3 separate regions of the Homo sapiens genome follow, and all the other regions are linked to region 1. The links come from fine-mapping of genetic effects on gene expression. A gene starts in region 1. Each other region holds a variant in brackets. All regions are shown on one strand. Distances are between the middles of the regions. Region 1 holds the start of ELAPOR1 (endosome-lysosome associated apoptosis and autophagy regulator 1). Region 2 overlaps ELAPOR1 (endosome-lysosome associated apoptosis and autophagy regulator 1). Region 3 overlaps WDR47 (WD repeat domain 47).

Region 1 (2,761 bases):
CAGAACTTTTATTTTGCCTTCCCCAACGTAGTTCTTGTAAATATCTTATTGTTGCCTCTGCCATATGGTTTCTAAAAAAGTTGCTCAGAGCACAACCAAATATTGTTATTTCAATAACATAGAAATGACTTAGTTTTGTTGCTGCTAGTGCCCTTTTATGTTCCTCCAAGATGACTTTTCAAAAGCTATTTTTGGTTATAAGAGATTGACTACCTATTGTCTGAATTCTGCTTCCAACATATTGGAAATACCTTGAAAAAGACTTTGACATATGTTAAGTCAGAGAAGGAGACTAGAGGTTGGCAGAACACAAGATATTGAAGAACTCAAAATCTGCAAAAAGGTGAGTCGTGTACTGTCAGGTACACTAAACATAGTACGCTGCGGGGAGGCCAAGCTATAAGGAGGAGACACATTTTACAGTCTGCACTAACCGATGTTTAATAAACAAGGAACTAGAGAGCTGGAATCCTATCATCCCTCTCGCACATCTCCCACCTTCACACTCCGTTTTGTGTAGCCATGATAAAACCACTTCGCTCTGATACTTTTTTCTGGCCTTCCTAACTCCTTTCCTCTCCCACTACTCTTCTTTCCTCTTCCTATTTTGCTTCTCTGTGCATAATCTTTTCTTGTCAACCACTTTTAAGGTGAGTTCATCCTAACTGGAAAATAACTCGTCTGCCTCCCTCATTCTGAGTTCAGGTACCCAGGTAGCTCCCCTTCTTGGGGCTGGGACCTTTCTCGCTGAGCTCAGCATCCCAATCTGTGAGGATGATCTATCCGTGAGTCCTCCAATGTGCTGGCCTCCTCATGACGCCAGACTGGCTCCTCTTCCCTCCCCCCACGCCTCATCCCCAAAGAAATCTAAACTCCGTGGCGTCTGAAACTCTCTGCGCCTGGGTCCCCAAGGTCTCCGCCTGGATCCAAGACTTTTGTGACCAAAGCGGGATCGGGTAGGGGGGCGGCAGTACCTCTTTGCAGGCATGAAGCTCCGGTCCCGTTCCCTGGGTCACCTGGAAGGCGGTCCCAGCCCAGAGCAGCAGCCGCCACAGCCGGGGTATGCGCCTCTCAGTTCTTCCCCTGACTCTGGCGGAGAGATGGTGGCTGTGCCCAGGCTCAGCCATAGCGTTGTCCTGAGTGAGCGGCAGTAGCGGCTCAGGTGCTGCGGCTGCTGCTTCTGCTGGCAGAAGGCGGAAAAAAAGGGGAGGGAGGTACACAGGCGGAGGATGCAAGAGGCCAGGCTCGCTTCAGTCACCTCCCTGCGGCTACGCCAACACCGCCCATCCTTCCTCCTCCCTCTGTCCTCTCCTCCTACCCACGTCGCCTTGACAACCGCCTCCTCTCTGGCTCCGCGCGGGTGGGGCAGGGACCACGCGCGCCTCTGCAGCTCACCTGCGGGTCGCCATGGCAGCCGCCGCCGCTGGTGCGCGCGGCGTGGGCGCGGGAGAGCGCGCGCCCGGGGTGCGCAACCGGCCCAACAGGCAGGCCCGGGGCTCGTGTGAAGAACACAGTGGAAGCATCCTCCAAGCCAGCCAACAAATTTCCGTTTTCTACTGCCCTTTCGGGCCAGGGGTTATTTTATGAGCATCTCCGATGTTGCACACGTGGCGTGTGAACCGAGAGAAAGAAGATGGAGAGATCACCCTCCAGACGTCGTCGCCTGGAAGAGGCCCCAGTACGTGTTCCCTCCTACGAAGGCCACTCCTGGAGATCTTACATCCCGCCAAATCCATCCGTGCTTTTACAACCGGCTAGAAGAGAAGCCCTGACACTGTAGTTGATCCGAGTTTAAGCGAGGAGTTTGCCTTAGCCGCAATTTCCCAAGCGCCGCACGTGGGCCTCTCTCTCTCTCTCTCTCTCTCTCTCTCTCTCTCTCTCTCTCTCTCTCTCTTTCTCTCTCTCTCTCTCTCTCTCTGAGACAGGGTCTCACTCTCTCGCCCACACTGGAGTGCAGTGGCGCGATCTCGGCTAACTGCAACCTCCGCCTTCCGGGTTCAAGAGATTCTCCTGGATTAGCCTCCCGAGTAGCTGGGACTACGGGCGCGTGCCACCAAGCCCAGCTAATTTTTTTCCTACTTTTTGTAGAGACGGGGTTTCGCCATGTTGCCCAGACTGGTCTCGAACTCTTGGGCTTAAGCGATCCGCCCGCCTCCGCTTCCCAAAGTGCTGAGATTACAGGCGTGAACCACCGCGCCCGGCCCTCTTTGGTCTCTTGACATCCTCATTCTCTCATGGCTTTGAAAGCCTTTTGTTAGGTGCGAGGGAGAAGGAAATTTCTGGGTCATCTTTCAGGACTTCTTTCCTCAACTGAAGTCTTTTGCAGAAGTCCTGATGGTGAGCAGCCAGCACTTTTCCGCCGAGGCTCAGGAGTGCAATTCCAAGTCTCGGGCCCGCTCAGCGGAACGTTCCCTCTGCAGTCCCCGGAGCTTCCTCCCCAGGGGCCTCCCGTGGTCAGCCGCCAGGTGGCGCCCTCCTCTGAGGGAATTCCTCTGTCATAGATGGCTGGGCAGTTGCCTGGCAACCGAAACCAGCGCTCCAAACAATTGGGACCCGGGATCTTATGCCAGTGAGGCTGTGCTGCGGCTGAGCGGGCCTCCCATCCCTCTTAAAAGAGTTAGGCATTTAGCCATGCCTCCCACCCGGGACCCTTTCCAGCAGCCTACATTAGATAACGATGATTCCTACTTAGGAGAACTGCGGGCTTCCAAGGTACTGTGGTTTCTTGCGCAGATTCCCAGTAGGGTCGCCGGTAGTCTTC
Region 2 (2,761 bases), 72 kb before region 1:
TGGGCCTTGGCTGTGCTGCAAGGCGGGAACACAGGCTTTGGTCTGACCCAGCATCTAAAGGCCCCGGCAGTGGTCAGGCCAAGGCAGACACCCGGGCTTTCAGGCAGCAAGCACGGTACTGACCCAGAAGGCCTTGGCGTGAGCCCAGGGAGGGAAGAGAATGGGGCAGAAGGGAGGAAAGACAGCCACATTCAGTCACATGTTATGAACAGGAGGGAGAAGAGCAGCAGGATTAATTGTCTGCCTTTTATTAGTGAGTTGGCTGAGACCAAGAAAATGAAAATAAATGTTCACAAGGTCATACAGAATACCAGACACCACAGAACTGAGTCTAAGGTGCAACTGACAAGACACAGCCATTCTCTCTTGGCTGCTGGAGAAGGGGATGATGCCCCAAATACGTGGGGGAGGTGGTGTTGGTAAGAGATGACTGTGCAAAATATTCATTGTTAAGGACCAGACTTTAACCCATGCTTAGTTAGGAAAGGGAGAATTCAGTCAGCCGCCCAGCCAGCAAATGTTTATGCTCCCTAAGAGCCAAGCATCATGCTTAGTGCTGAGTGCAGAATGCCCAACTCCTAGTTCTATCCTCTTGAGAATCTCTAGCTTAGGGATACAGACAGCTCAGCCAGATCCTTCTCCGTGCACCTCAAGCCCTTCCCTGCTCACTTACACTGTTTCTCCACCCACCTGGCCCAGCTGCCGCCTCCTCTCCTGCTGTGTCTGCTGCCTGGAAAGCTCCACGGCTCCTCCCTCATCTCCTTCAGGTCTCTGCTCAAATGTCACCTCCTGAGAGGACATCCCTACCCTTCTAAAATAGTGGCACCACCCTCCTTCATTCTCTCTCTCCTAATCCTGGTTTTTTTTTTTCCTTCCTACCACTTACTACCATTTGCTATATTATATACCCATTTGTTGTCTATTATCTCTCTCTCCACTCCCTCCCCAACAAGAGTTAAGCTCCATAAGGGCTAGATGTTCCCTCAGTTTTGTTAAGTGATGCATGCCTAGCACCTAGCACCGTGCCTGGCACAGAGTCGCTCCTCGATAAATATTTGTTGACTGTTGAACAAATGGCCTCCTCTGAGAGGCTTTCTCTGCTGCCCCCACCCCAAGTCCTGGTCGCTTCTCTTCTGGGCTCCCCCAGTTCCCTGCACATCCCTCTGGTTGCCTTGACTGGGCCCGTTTTTCTCCTCTCTCCAGCCTCTCATACAGGACTGTGAGCTCCCTGGGGGCAGGAGCTTGTTTCAGTCGTCTCTGACTCCCCAGCCTATAGTGCCAGGCCTGACATATCAGTCAGCCTCAAAAAATGCTTGTTGACTCAGTGACAGTGTAGACTAGGAGGGAAAGTTCTTTTCTGAAGCAGAAAGCCTGGAGGAAAGAGAAGCAGCAGAAACGGAACAAGTCAGACCATAGGCAGGAATCCATTCCCCGTGCCAGCCCACAAAACAGTGCCGAGGGGGTGAGCCTGAAGAGCCCCGGGAGGAC[A/G]TTGTGTACGGACAGGCAGGCTCTGCCGGAGTGGCTCGGCAAATAGAAGAAACCAAGCAAGAGAGAATGAAGTGGGTTTTTGAAACAGAACATATGTGCATAAACAGTGAAACAAACGCTGCAAAAACAGTTTCTGACCGGAAAATGAATGAAGAGGTCTCGTTTTGCCCCCCACCCCACCTAGCCCTAGGGTCACCTCAAAGGTCTGTGGGGTTTTAACTAGTGCCAATGTCATTGACTGCTGAAGTTCCAAATGGTGGCAAACCTCAGGGAGTGGGAGACAGTCCATCTGGGGCTAAGGGGCTCCAAGACTGTACTACCCACCTCTCCGTTGGCATCGCAGGCCGTGTGTGTGTAGAAATAATCTTTGTCTGTGCAAGCTGGGCGCACGTTACAGGAAGAAGATCCTTTCTCTAAATTGCCAAAGCAAGAAGAAATATTTGGAGTTACATAAGAAAGCTGAGCTCCTGGCCTCTTCATGGCCCTGTGACTCCCAAGTCCCTGGGTGCATTGCCACACAAATATTGCCGGAAGTAGAAAATCCTGCACACTCACCCTTCCCCTTGTCTCAATAGTGTCATTTCCAGTTCCCCAACCCTGCTCAAGCTTCCCTTTGCACCTGTTCCAGGTGCTGATGAGAAACCACTGTTTGCCGCTTCCCGTCCCCCGCCCCATGGGGCAAGGGAGGGAGAAGTGGCCTGGCCAAAGGACCAGCAAGGAGGGTAGACGGAAACAGCTTCTTGCAGGTTAACCACTGCCAACCTAAGTTCCCTGAAACCTGGGGAGGTTCAGAGAGTTCACCATCTTCCAGGTGCCTTAGTGTCTTGACTCTGGGTGTGGTTTTTCTACTCCTGAAGTGTTGAAGTAAAACATGATTTTGCTTTCATACTCATTCCAAGCCTTTCTATGAATGTTCTAATATATGCCTAGAATGAAGGCCTTCCACCTTGGAAATTTCCTTTTCTTCATGCAATCATTCTACACAAACCAGGTTTGTAATTTCCTTGGACTCCACCTAACACATAAGGTTCTTCCCACTTGCCTCAACCCAAGCATCCCAACACTATCTTTATTATTATTATTATTGAGATGGAGTTTCACTCTTGTTGCCCAGGCTGGAGTGCAGTGGCACGATCTTGGCTCACTGCAACCTCCGCCTCCCAGGTTCAAGTGATTCTCCTGCCTCAGCTTCTTGAGTAGCTGGAATTACAGGCATGAGTCACCATGCCTGGCTAATTTTGTATTTTTAGTAGAGACGGAGTTTCTCCATGTT
Region 3 (2,761 bases), 130 kb after region 1:
TGCTTGAGCCCAGAAGTTCAAGACCAGCCTGGGCAACATGGCGAAACTCCATCTCTATTTTTTTTTAATTAAAAAAATTAAAACTTTTTAAAAAAGGAAAGCAATAATGCTGCACTTTAAAAGAATCATCTAAAGAATACAGAAATGGCCCATGGACATGGACGTTAACATGAACATAGTAAAATGGAATTTCCAGATTATAAACAATGGAAGATAGAAGAAACACCATTAGAAACTATCCAGGAGAAGCTGGCTGCAGGAGGGCTAAGGGATCTATGGGGCTGTAATGAAGCTTAGAGAAACATGGGTGACTTTGCAAACAATGTTTCCTCTGATGGTGCATTATTAAAAGGATTCAAAGATTTGCTGCATTTGTGGTAGCTGTAGGGGTTTAATATTACCTGGTGTCCCAGAGTAAAGATAAGAAGCATCACTGATGATAATACCTGGAAGTATCTTAGTGGTTTCTTAACTCTCCAAAATAAGATTTCTTCACTGTAGCCTACTTGTCTGTGTGTTTGCCTCTTAAAGGATATTAGTAAGATTTAATAAAGTAAGAAAAACATAGAGAAAAGAATATATGGTTATTGGCAGTAAACCTAACATGATCCAACAAGAATAATAAAGTTCAAATGAATTTAAAATGGGAGAAAGATGAATTCTTTCAAATTCATTTTTTTAATAGGATAACTAATATTCATTCTTTCCATAGGATGACAAATCAAAAAAGCAGTTTGTTTGTATTAATATCCTAGAAGACACACAAGCTGTTAGAGCAGTGGCTTTTCATCCAGCTGGAGGTTTATATGCTGTTGGTTCAAATTCAAAAACTCTGAGAGTATGTGCCTATCCAGATGTAATTGATCCAAGGTAAGGATCAATGATTTGTGCTGCCATTCTTACCTTAGTTTTTAATTTAGCCGTATAGGTTCCTTTTTCAGAATTGCCATTCAGTAGTGTTTCAAATCTTACTTTCTTTCCTTCGATTAAACTTTATTTTCTGTTATAAAATAACTGTTTTTACTTTCAGTGCTTAGGAAATATACTTAAGTCATTAACTTCATAATTTTTTCATAAAATGTTTTTGATTACA[A/T]CATTGCTCATTTATGGCTTTAGACTTCTTTATTTCCATGGCTTTTGTATTTTGTTTTTTATCTGAAAAGTCTTTATATAGTAGACCCCCCTTATTTGCAAGGGATACATTTAAGAACCCCAGTGGATTCCTGAAACCTTGGCTGGTACTGAACCCTACGTATACTGTGTTTTTTCCTATTCATACACACCTATTTATAAATTATGTATGTAATTTACATATAACTCTTACTCTTTTACACCTCTTAAGACTTTTTAATTATAACCCTAGTTTGAGAAACAGGGGTGGGATTTTTCATTTATTTGCATTTTTTTTTTTTTTTTGCTATCTCTATGTCTGAAACCAATAATTTAGGCTTTTGGACTGTGGTAGCATTTAATGATTGGGAAAGGGAATATAATAAGGTCCATGTTAATTGATAGTATTATAATTTACTGGTGCTCACTGCATTATTTAAGTCGAAATACTTAAGAAAGAATGGCAAAATTCTCTATAAGGGAGTGAGAAATAGCAATAATTATGGAGGTAGAACCAAAGACTTATATGTTTAGGGTTAACTTGAACTTAAGGTAACTGTTTCTCATCTTTTGTATTTCTTATACAGACACAGATGTTTCATAGGCTGTGAAGAAACTGATTTGAAAATAAATACATTTATTTAGCAAATATATATTTTGGGCTCCTATGTGCTAGGTACTATAGTTGTGTGTAAAACAAACATGTTTATTGGCTTCATGGAACTTCTTGTTTAGTGGGGAAGATGGATATAATGCAAATGAACACAAATATACATTTTGGTAAATGTTATGAAGAAAGATTACAACGTGCTGTGAGAATAAAATGGGGATGGAGTAGGGTGCAAACTGGCGAGTCAGAGAAAGACTTCTTTGAGGAAGAGGCACTAAAGTTGAGATCTAAGGAGGAGTAACCTAGCTATGTAAAGAGAAGGGAGAAGAGAATAATATAGAGGGAACGTGAGGTGAGAAAGAGCTTGGCTTTTTTTAGGAACTGAAATAAATTCAGATTGGTTGGAAAATTATGAGCTTGAGTTTGATAAGGCCGCAGAGATAGACATGAACTAAATTAGGCAGAGCTTTCTAGCCATTTTATATTTCATGCTGAGTGCAGTGGGACACCACTGAAAGTAGCAGATCAAGTGTAAATGTATTTTGAGATGATGACTCTGCCTGTGATTGGATGGCAATAAGAGGAGACACTGGGAGAGAGGGAGGAAGCTGTTTGTATTTGATGGTAATGTGATGGCAGTGGAGGTGGAGCAAAGTGGGTGGATTTGAGAGGTATAATCCATTTAAGGAAGGAATCGGTGGGACTTGGTGATAATTGGTTGTGCAGCTGAAAAGAAAATCTTTTTATCTGGTCTGTTCTCTAGATCAGTTTTTTGGGTTTTTTTTGTTTTTGTTTTGAGACAGAGTCTCACTCTGTCGCCAGGCTGGAGTGCACTGGCACGACCTCAGCTCACTGTAACCTCCACCTCCTGGGTTCAAGTGATTCTCCTGCTTCAGCCTCCTGAGTAGCTGGGACTACAGGCATGCACCACGATGCCTAGCTGATTTTTGTATTTTTAGTAGCGACGGGGTTTCACCATGTTGGCCAGGATGGTCTTGATTTCCTGACCTCTTGATCCGCCCTCCTCGGCCTCCCAAAGTG

Evidence for each region. PIP is the estimated chance that this variant, and not a neighbour inherited with it, causes the effect. A credible set is the group of variants that fine-mapping cannot tell apart.
Region 2: its variant is the best candidate, but not a certain one, in a credible set for the expression of ELAPOR1 in whole blood (TOPMed, PIP 0.60).
Region 3: its variant is the best candidate, but not a certain one, in a credible set for the expression of ELAPOR1 in whole blood (INTERVAL, PIP 0.52).

What each region holds. Positions count from the first base shown.
Region 1 is chr1:109,112,550-109,115,310 of GRCh38, reverse strand. ELAPOR1 (endosome-lysosome associated apoptosis and autophagy regulator 1) reads right to left here and starts at 1,196. Exons shown (of 22, transcript NM_020775.5): 1 at 975-1,196. The coding sequence starts at 1,127. It overlaps CFAP276 (cilia and flagella associated protein 276), which reads left to right and starts at 2,564. Exons shown (of 5, transcript NM_001245025.3): 1 at 2,564-2,712. The coding sequence starts at 2,632. RefSeq lists a silencer at 1,375-1,444.
Region 2 is chr1:109,184,185-109,186,945 of GRCh38, reverse strand. ELAPOR1 (endosome-lysosome associated apoptosis and autophagy regulator 1) reads right to left here. Exons shown (of 22, transcript NM_020775.5): 8 at 1,813-1,901. Among named protein-coding and RNA genes, the nearest start is that of SARS1, 28 kb to the left of the region's middle. The variant A/G (reference allele first, on the strand shown) is at 1,489.
Region 3 is chr1:108,984,632-108,987,392 of GRCh38, reverse strand. WDR47 (WD repeat domain 47) reads left to right here. Exons shown (of 15, transcript NM_001142551.2): 10 at 713-870. It also overlaps the pseudogene LOC107985160. Among named protein-coding and RNA genes, the nearest start is that of CLCC1, 23 kb to the right of the region's middle. The variant A/T (reference allele first, on the strand shown) is at 1,094.